Homo sapiens: one gene and its partner. The protein of the gene in region 2 interacts with the protein of the main gene of each other region in a pairwise test. Each region holds a gene or a part of one and is shown on either strand. Other genes may lie near its edges.

Region 1 (3,746 bases), on a different chromosome or scaffold from region 2:
GAGAGGGAAGGCTTCTGAGGAGGGAGAGGTCCTGCCTGCCTCCCCACCTGCCACAGAGCCCCCTGGGGCCTTTTGAAAGGCAGACACTCCCAAATCCAAAGGAAGAGGTCTGGAGGAATGTTTTCACAGGCGCCAGCCTCCCCACCACCATGCCCTGGGTTGGGGTGCCAGGGAAGAAACCCTGTCCCCAGAGCAGGTGGGGAAGGGCCCTGGAGGCATGGAGCCCCCCAGCCTGCGCTCCCCGGCAGAGGGCTGAGGGGTGGAGGGCCGGGGGGTGAGCACGCATGCTGAGCCACTGTCTCCCCCCACCACTGTCTCCAGATGGGGGAGTCGGGGGTGGCAGGAGCCGTGGTGCCCTCAGGGGCAGCTGCTGGAGGGTCTGGCTGGCCAGGCGCCTGGTCAGCTGCCAGGGGCTGAAATTGGAGCCAGCTGGAGCTGGGAGGCCTGTGGGAATGAGGGGACTCAGGAAGCCCCTTCAGTGGGGGCTGGGAAAGGAGTGGCTTCCCTTACTCACTGTGTCCAGCACTCCCTGACCACCCCAGGACCACAAGAGCAATGAATACTGTGAGCACCGCTAAGCCCTTTATGTGCATTCTCTCTCGAATTGGCCAGAGAGAGGCTGCCCTCTTGTACCCAGTGACGTCCCAACCACAGCCGGCCATGCCCCAGCCCAGCCCAGTCCCTGGGGGCTGAAGCCACTGAGGCCACATCCTCCATGTCTAGGTCCCCCTAGGGTGTGAGGAGACGTGGCTCCAGCTAGGCAGTACCCATGTCGGGTGTGGGGGGCTGAGGCCTGGGCTTCCTTCCACTCTGGCTTGCTCCCACGTTGGAGAGACCACGGTGCCAGCAGTCCAGACAAGATTTTTAGGGGCAGAGTCCAGCAGCCTCTGGGGGCTGGGCCCCCAGGCCTGATCACCCCAGGCAGCTGCGGCAGGGTCCCAGGTGAAGCCCAGGAACAGAGCCCCCAGGGCTGCCACACGCCACTCTGCAAGGCCGTGTGTTGCGACCTGGCTCGGGCTGGGCCCTCCCAATCGAGAAGTAGCCGTGAGGGTGAGTTCCTGGGGGCAGGGCCTGCAGCCACCCCTGCTGGCCAGGAACTTGGGGTGGGGGGTTTGGACAAAACCCAAGACTAGCCAGGGGTCCTGTGCCCACCGCAGGGAGTCCCTATAGAAACCTGGCCCCCAGCCCCCCAGAGAGGGGCACTCCTGCCGCTCCCCCCTCTCTCTGCTCCACTCAAGACTGGCAACCCCCAGACCCCGGCAGCGGTTCCTCCAAAGAGAGGGCACGGCTACCTGGGTGGCCCCTGCCTGGGGTCCCTGACCCCAGCAGCACTCTGCAGTCCTGGGGGTGATTCCACCAGATGGAGTGTTTGGTTACACTCACTCCCCACAACCCCTGGGGTGCTGCCCCCAGCCCAGGGACCCACCCGGAGCCACTCCGCTCACAGGCCCCCAAAGGCGACCAGGGCCAGTGGTTCTGGGGGAGACCTGTGCGGCTGCAGTTGAAGACACTGTCCCGCAGCGTCGAGGGAGGCAGCGGGGACCCCCGCAGGTGCCGATGCCTTACCTGGGCCAACAGCCCGAGGACGAGGAGGAACGCGGCGTCCATCGGGGCCGAGGCGGGAGCCGGGCCGGAGTGCACCCGCGACCCGAAGAAGCGCGTCCAGGCTGAGTGACAGCGCAAGTGCGCGGGGCGGGCCAGGGCCAGAGACAGAGACAGCACGTGTGAGGGGGGCGGGGAGGGGGCGGGGCAAGGGCTGAGTGACAGCACGAAGGAGGCCTCTGACGGGCCGAGGGCCGGCCTGGGCAGGGCTAAGGCTGAGTGACAGCGTGTTGGCAGGCGGGTGGGGCGGAGCCTCTGGCGAGCTAGGGCGGGGCGCAGGCTGAGTGATAGCCCGTGTGCGAGTGGGGCAGGCGGGGCGGGGCCGGGGCCGAGGGCTGAGTGACAGCGCAGGTGCGCCGGCGGGGCGGTGACCGCACGAGGCTGGTGGGGCGGAGCCAGAGGAGGATGGGGCGGGCGGGGCGGGGCCGAGGGCTGAGTGACACCTTGTGAGAGTGCGGGGTGGGGCCGGGGTGGGGCCGGGGCGGGGCCGAGGGCTGAGTGATAGCTTTTGCGGGGTTCCGGCGGGCAGGGCCAGGGCTAGGTCGGAGATACCCCGGCTTGCTGCGTTGGGAGCAGAGCCAGAGGCCAGGCTGTGGGGAAGGCAGGGTGGGTGCGTCCGGGTCAGGGACCAGCTGGGATTCCTGGCTTCTTCATTTCCTGCTCCTTGGGCCCGGCTCGCCCCTGCTCCAGGGAATCTGCATTGTAGTCCCTGCCGGGGGACACCTCTTGAGCACTTCCTTGGGCCCCTCGCCTCTCTGGCTGCGTCTCCTGCGCCTCCCCGCATCCCACTGAACGCTAGGCCCGCCTTCCACGCACCTCCTCGCGACCTCATTTTGCCCAGCTCTTATTCAGTATGGAACTGCTCTGGTTCACACGCCTCTGATACCAGCGTGGCTCGTAGGACACCCCCAATTCCCCCAGTCCACGCACCTCCTCCAGCATCCCCTTGTTCCCCGAGGCCCCCTGCCTGGAGCACCTTCCTTCCTACAGAACTCCTTCTCATCATCCCTCAACACCCAAGGTCAACGCTGCCGCCTCCTGGAGCCTCCTTGCCACCTCGGCCAGAAGCCCTCCCTCCTGTTGACTGTGGCACCTGTTCTCCCCTTCGAGACCCCGCCCCCTGGGATGGTGTGGGTGTGGCTCAACACCTGCACAGGCCCAGCGCACGGTCAGGAAGGTCCTGGAGAGGGGGTGGAGGGGGCTGGAGGCAGGAGGATCCTTTCTTTTGAGCAGGCAGGGTGGGGAGTGGGGGTTGCCGACCAGCCCAGGGCCGGGCCGGGGAGCCCGTTCCTCTCTGTGATGGGAGCAGACCCGGTACCTCTGCTCTCCTGTCGACGGCGGGTGGCTGTGCAGGTGCAGGCAGCATCTGTGCACTTGGCCTGCTTGAAAGGAGGCCAGGCTGCCCGGGAGGCTCAGGCCAGGACTGTCCCTAGCGCTCACTGCTCCAAGATGAGAGAGGGCAGGGAGTCCATCTCCAGACTGGGAGGCCTCTGGGGCTGGGGTGTAGCCTGTTGGGGACCACCATCCTGCCTCTGTGGTCAGTGACCTCAAAATAGGGGTGGAGAAGCCCTCTGAGTGCTTTTGGTTTTCATCCTCACGGGACTAGTGCAGGGGTGAGGTAGAAGTGCTCGCCCTCCCCCCAGAAAGAGGTCTGGGGAGGCTGCGGTCTGCCAACCCCAGCTCCTCTCCGCTTCCACCCTGCACCCACCTCGCTTCAGCCACCTGCCTCCCACCCACCTCGGGGAGAAACGGAGGCCAAATCCCTCCTCCATGGGATGTGGGGGTCTCTAAGGGAAAGGCTAAGCTGGGCCAGGTCCTGGGTGAGCCCCAAATGCAGGGCGGGGCCAGGGAAGCAGCCGGCTTAACCACTGCGGGAGGGTGTGCTCCCTGGCTGGCGGGCTATCCCCCAGGGGCAGGTGCCCCCGCGAGGGACCCCGCTCCACATGCTCCCAGGGCAGCAGGAAGGTCAGGAGGCAGGAGCCTGGGTCCAGTCCCAGCTCGGAGCCTTGGGCTGGAGGTTCTCCCCCGTGCCTCAGTTTCTCCTTGTGTCAGAGGTAGGTGGCAGGGAAGGGCTGGGTACCCTGAGTCTGGAGGTCCTGTGCAGTGGGGGCAGGGGTACATTTTCGGCTGCAGGACCATCAGCC
Region 2 (3,746 bases):
CAATAAATGAACAATAGTCCTCTTAATTTGTTGTTAAAACAAACAAAACAAGCTTCAGAAAATGGAAATACGATAACCTTATAGTCAGGCCTCTCCTCTTGAAAGATCAAAAAAAATTCTGATTATGTTACAATAGATCATCAAGTTGGGCTTACAGCTATTTTAGTCTTCGTTTATAATTATAATATAAATGAACACAAAGAGCAGATGCATACCTTCCAAACTTTCTTGTTCATCCGAGGTGTAAGTGTCCATCTGACTTTGTTCCCGTAAGAAACGAATAACTGCATAAACCAGGTGCTTGATAGATGACATTTTAGAAGCTTAAACACTTTTCCTTGATAAGAAAAATGAAAACACTGAACTAAGTTATTTTAAAGAATCAGTCAGGAAAGTCATAAATTACAAAGATGATATGGGTTATAAAGTGTATTAAAGGTAAAAACAAAACACAAAACTGTATGACCTTTCATCTTTTCTCTTTGTAAAGAGTCAGGAGAGCACAAAGTATTGTGAAGGTAATTTATTACATATTTTCATTAATACCCAGTGGTATACGAGTATGTTAAATCTTGGAATAAGTAAAAATGTCTTCAAAACATGTACAGCATAAGCTTAGACTGTCACTGCATATCTCACCATACAGAAATCCCCTAAAGGCCTCAGTACTAAGTTAAGAGGCATTTCATACTGCTGACTAAAAGCTGATGTATACCAAGCATCTTCCTCTTTTTCATGGGATCTAAAAAAAGTATTAATAATGTACACTCTACCCACTTTTGTAGGTTGAGAGTTATTTGATGAGGAAACACATTCGCGAAAGGTTATTCAAGTGGTGAGTGTCGTTCTTAATAAAAATGGCATTTCTATTTAATCAGCAGACATGTCAGGAAATCGCTGCCCAAGTCGATGGATACTACAAGCCGACCGGCGCTCCCTGCAGAGGCTGTGCTCTCGTGGACAAGCTGGAAGCTCCCGGTCATGTTCATTCACATGGAATACTATCGCATCCAAACAGTGGCGCAGGGCCAGGCGGCATTCATGGCTGATTTCCACCAAATCGCATCATCCATCTGCTCCCCAGGTTCCCTAATTCAAAGCCAGGGTGTGGTACCCGCCGCTATAATGTTTATTATTTGTGTAGTTATTTTAAAGGCGATGTCAGCCTCTAGGCCACGGGGTCATAAGCACTAAATAAGGCCCCAGGGCAGAAGGTAAAAACAGAATGGGGGGAAAAGGGGTGAGAAGAGGGAAATAGGCTTCTCCCCCTTCCTCTCCCCAGAGCGCATCGAGCTCCCCCTCCCTTCCGTCCTCCCTCAGGTACCCGGCCTCGCCTCGGCCCTGCCCGGTGTGCAGCGGGTGCCGGTGCGGGCCCCGGTCCGGAGCGGCGGGAGGCGCACCCTTGCCAGACAGAAGCCCCTTACCAAGCAGGAGGACGCGAGACGACTGCTGCTGGCCCGCGGGGTTCCGTAGGCAGGCCCGCCCGACCCCTGGTCCTCGGGGCTGGAGCCCGGCTCGGGATCGCAGCACTGGTCGCGGCGGCGCAAACTTCCCCGGCCCCTAGGCCGTAGACCCCAGAACCCACCAGGCTGTGCTCTCTCTCAGGCGGCAGGGTCTGGCCAGCACCGCCCCTGGGGCGGGGCCGGACGCGAGGGCTGGGGCGGGGCCAGACACGCGAGCTGGGGCGGGGCACGGCGCGGGGCGGGGCTGGTAGGCGCCGGCGTGGAGCTGCCGCACGTGGGAGGGCGCTGGCCAGGCAGCCACTGTGGCCTCTGCGGCTAGGCCGGCTCGAGACTCCCGGGCGCCCAGGCGCTGCCGCCCGCCTCGCCGCCCCACGCCGAAGGACCACGCGCCCGCCGCCGCCAGCCTCTCAGCGCTCCCATGATCGCCCGGTGCCTTTTGGCTGTGCGAAGCCTCCGCAGGTACCTCCAGCGCGCGGGTTAACCTTGGCCGTGGGCAGGGCGGGGTCTTTCGCCGTGTGGTGCCTGGAGCCCGGACCCACCCCTTCCCGACCGCGCCTCTCCGACGCTCCCGGGACGCACCCTCCCCGCGGCTTGCAAGGTGGACCCCTGGGGGACACCTGGCGCGGCCACCTGGGGCCACCTTTCCCGCCTCCGCTCCCTCGGGAGGACGTCCATTCCTCTTTGTTTGGGACTGCCTCAGCCGCAGTCAGCGAGGCTGGTCACAGACGCGGCCCAAAATGAATGCAAATAGTTTGGATAAGAAAATCATTTCACGTTCAATCCCAATGCAGAACTACAGACCTGTCATTAAAAGTGCCGCAGCTGTGGACTCAGAACAATTGTGTTTGCTCCTCGCGCCCATTATTAGCATTCCAATCGTTTAACATCCACCCGAGATGAAACCTCTTTGGTGGTGTTGCTTGTTTCCGTCCATGCTCTCTGACTTCCTTTTTTATTTTCCTCCTCCCCATAAAACAAACATTCTGCCTCTTGCCGGTGCAAATTGACTTGGCCCAAAATGGAGAAAATGATCGCTTGGACACGGCTTTGGGCAGCCTGAGCTGCTGTTTTGGATTGCTTCCTAGCCCTCTAACCACACCCCACTGCAACAGACCAGTAGCAAGATGGTGAGGGAATTAAATTCTTTGCACGGATGCGCTGGTTTTCGGAAACAATGCCGCCACCATCCCCGTTTCCAAATCTGCCCAGAACTGTAAATCCAAATGAAGATTCAACAGAATAAAGAAAATGTGTGCTTCTTGCTAGCTATCAACAAAACTACTTTGTAACATGTCAGCATTTAAGCTTTCTACAGTTCCCTTTTGCACATTGCCACTCGTCTGTGTGGATGGAGCTTTGTGTTGCTCAGTCCGTAGAGTTAGGGAGCAGGCAGGCGACAGTGGTTAATTACAAAGAGTTAATGTGGTGATTGGTGACCATATTTCAGCCTGTCGTTTTTTGCTAGTCTCCAGGCTGCAATCGATATAGCTGTCAAATGAAGTTATACCAAGAAATGAAGACTTCACATAATGCAGGGGTGAGAGGAGGGAATAAATCTTCATATAAGAGCAATTCTCGGCCGGGCGCTGTGGCTCATGCCTGTAATCCCAGCACTTTGGGAGGCCGAGGCGGGTGGATCACGAGGTCAGGAGATCGAGACCATCCTGGCTAACACGGTGAAACCCCGTCTCTACTAAAAAATACAAAAAATTAGCCGGGCGTGGTGGCGGGCGCCTGTAGTCCCAGCTACTCGGGAGGCTGAGGCAGGAGAATGGCATGAACCCGGGAGGCGAAGCTTGCAGTGAGCCGAGATCGCACCACTGTACTCTAGCCTGGGCGACAGAGCAAGACTCCGTCTCAAAAAAAAAAAAAAAAAAAAAAGAACAATTCTCAAACTTTTTATTCTCAGGACCCCTTTACCTTTCAAAAATTACCGTGGACCTAAGAGCTTCTGTTTGTGTGGTATATCTGTCTATATTTACCATATTAGACATTAAAGCTGGAAAAAAATTAAAGTAGTTGTTAATTTACAAAACTAATAAATAGGCTAGGTGCATAAATAGTGATTTTAATGAAAAATAACTATTTTCCAAACCAACCCCCCCGCCCCCCAATCAGTGAGAAGATTAACATTGTGGGGTTTTTTCCCTTTTTTTTAAAATTGTGGTAAGATATAACAAAATTTACCATTTTGATAATTTTTAAGTGTACAATTGAGAGGTACAGCCAACACCACTGTCCATCTCCAGAACTTGTCATCATCCCAAACTGAAACCCTGTACC

The links. The genes of interacting proteins can lie anywhere in the genome.
Region 1: the proteins of SGTB (region 2) and CDH15 interact in binary tests that used the Homo sapiens proteins (3 or more experiments, as listed by UniProt).

Annotation. Positions count from the first base shown.
Region 1 is NC_000016.10:89,169,694-89,173,439, reverse strand, and holds the start of CDH15 (cadherin-15 preproprotein), read right to left. Parts: upstream 1,693-3,746; 5' UTR 1,609-1,692; coding exon 1,567-1,608; intron 1-1,566. UniProt on the Homo sapiens protein: Cadherins are calcium-dependent cell adhesion proteins. They preferentially interact with themselves in a homophilic manner in connecting cells; cadherins may thus contribute to the sorting of heterogeneous cell types.
Region 2 is NC_000005.10:65,720,493-65,724,238, forward strand, and holds the start of SGTB (small glutamine-rich tetratricopeptide repeat-containing protein beta), read right to left. Parts: upstream 1,618-3,746; 5' UTR 1,425-1,617; intron 338-1,424; 5' UTR 316-337; coding exon 216-315; intron 1-215. Other genes in the region: NLN (neurolysin, mitochondrial), read left to right, coding at 1,882-1,922. UniProt on the Homo sapiens protein: Co-chaperone that binds directly to HSC70 and HSP70 and regulates their ATPase activity.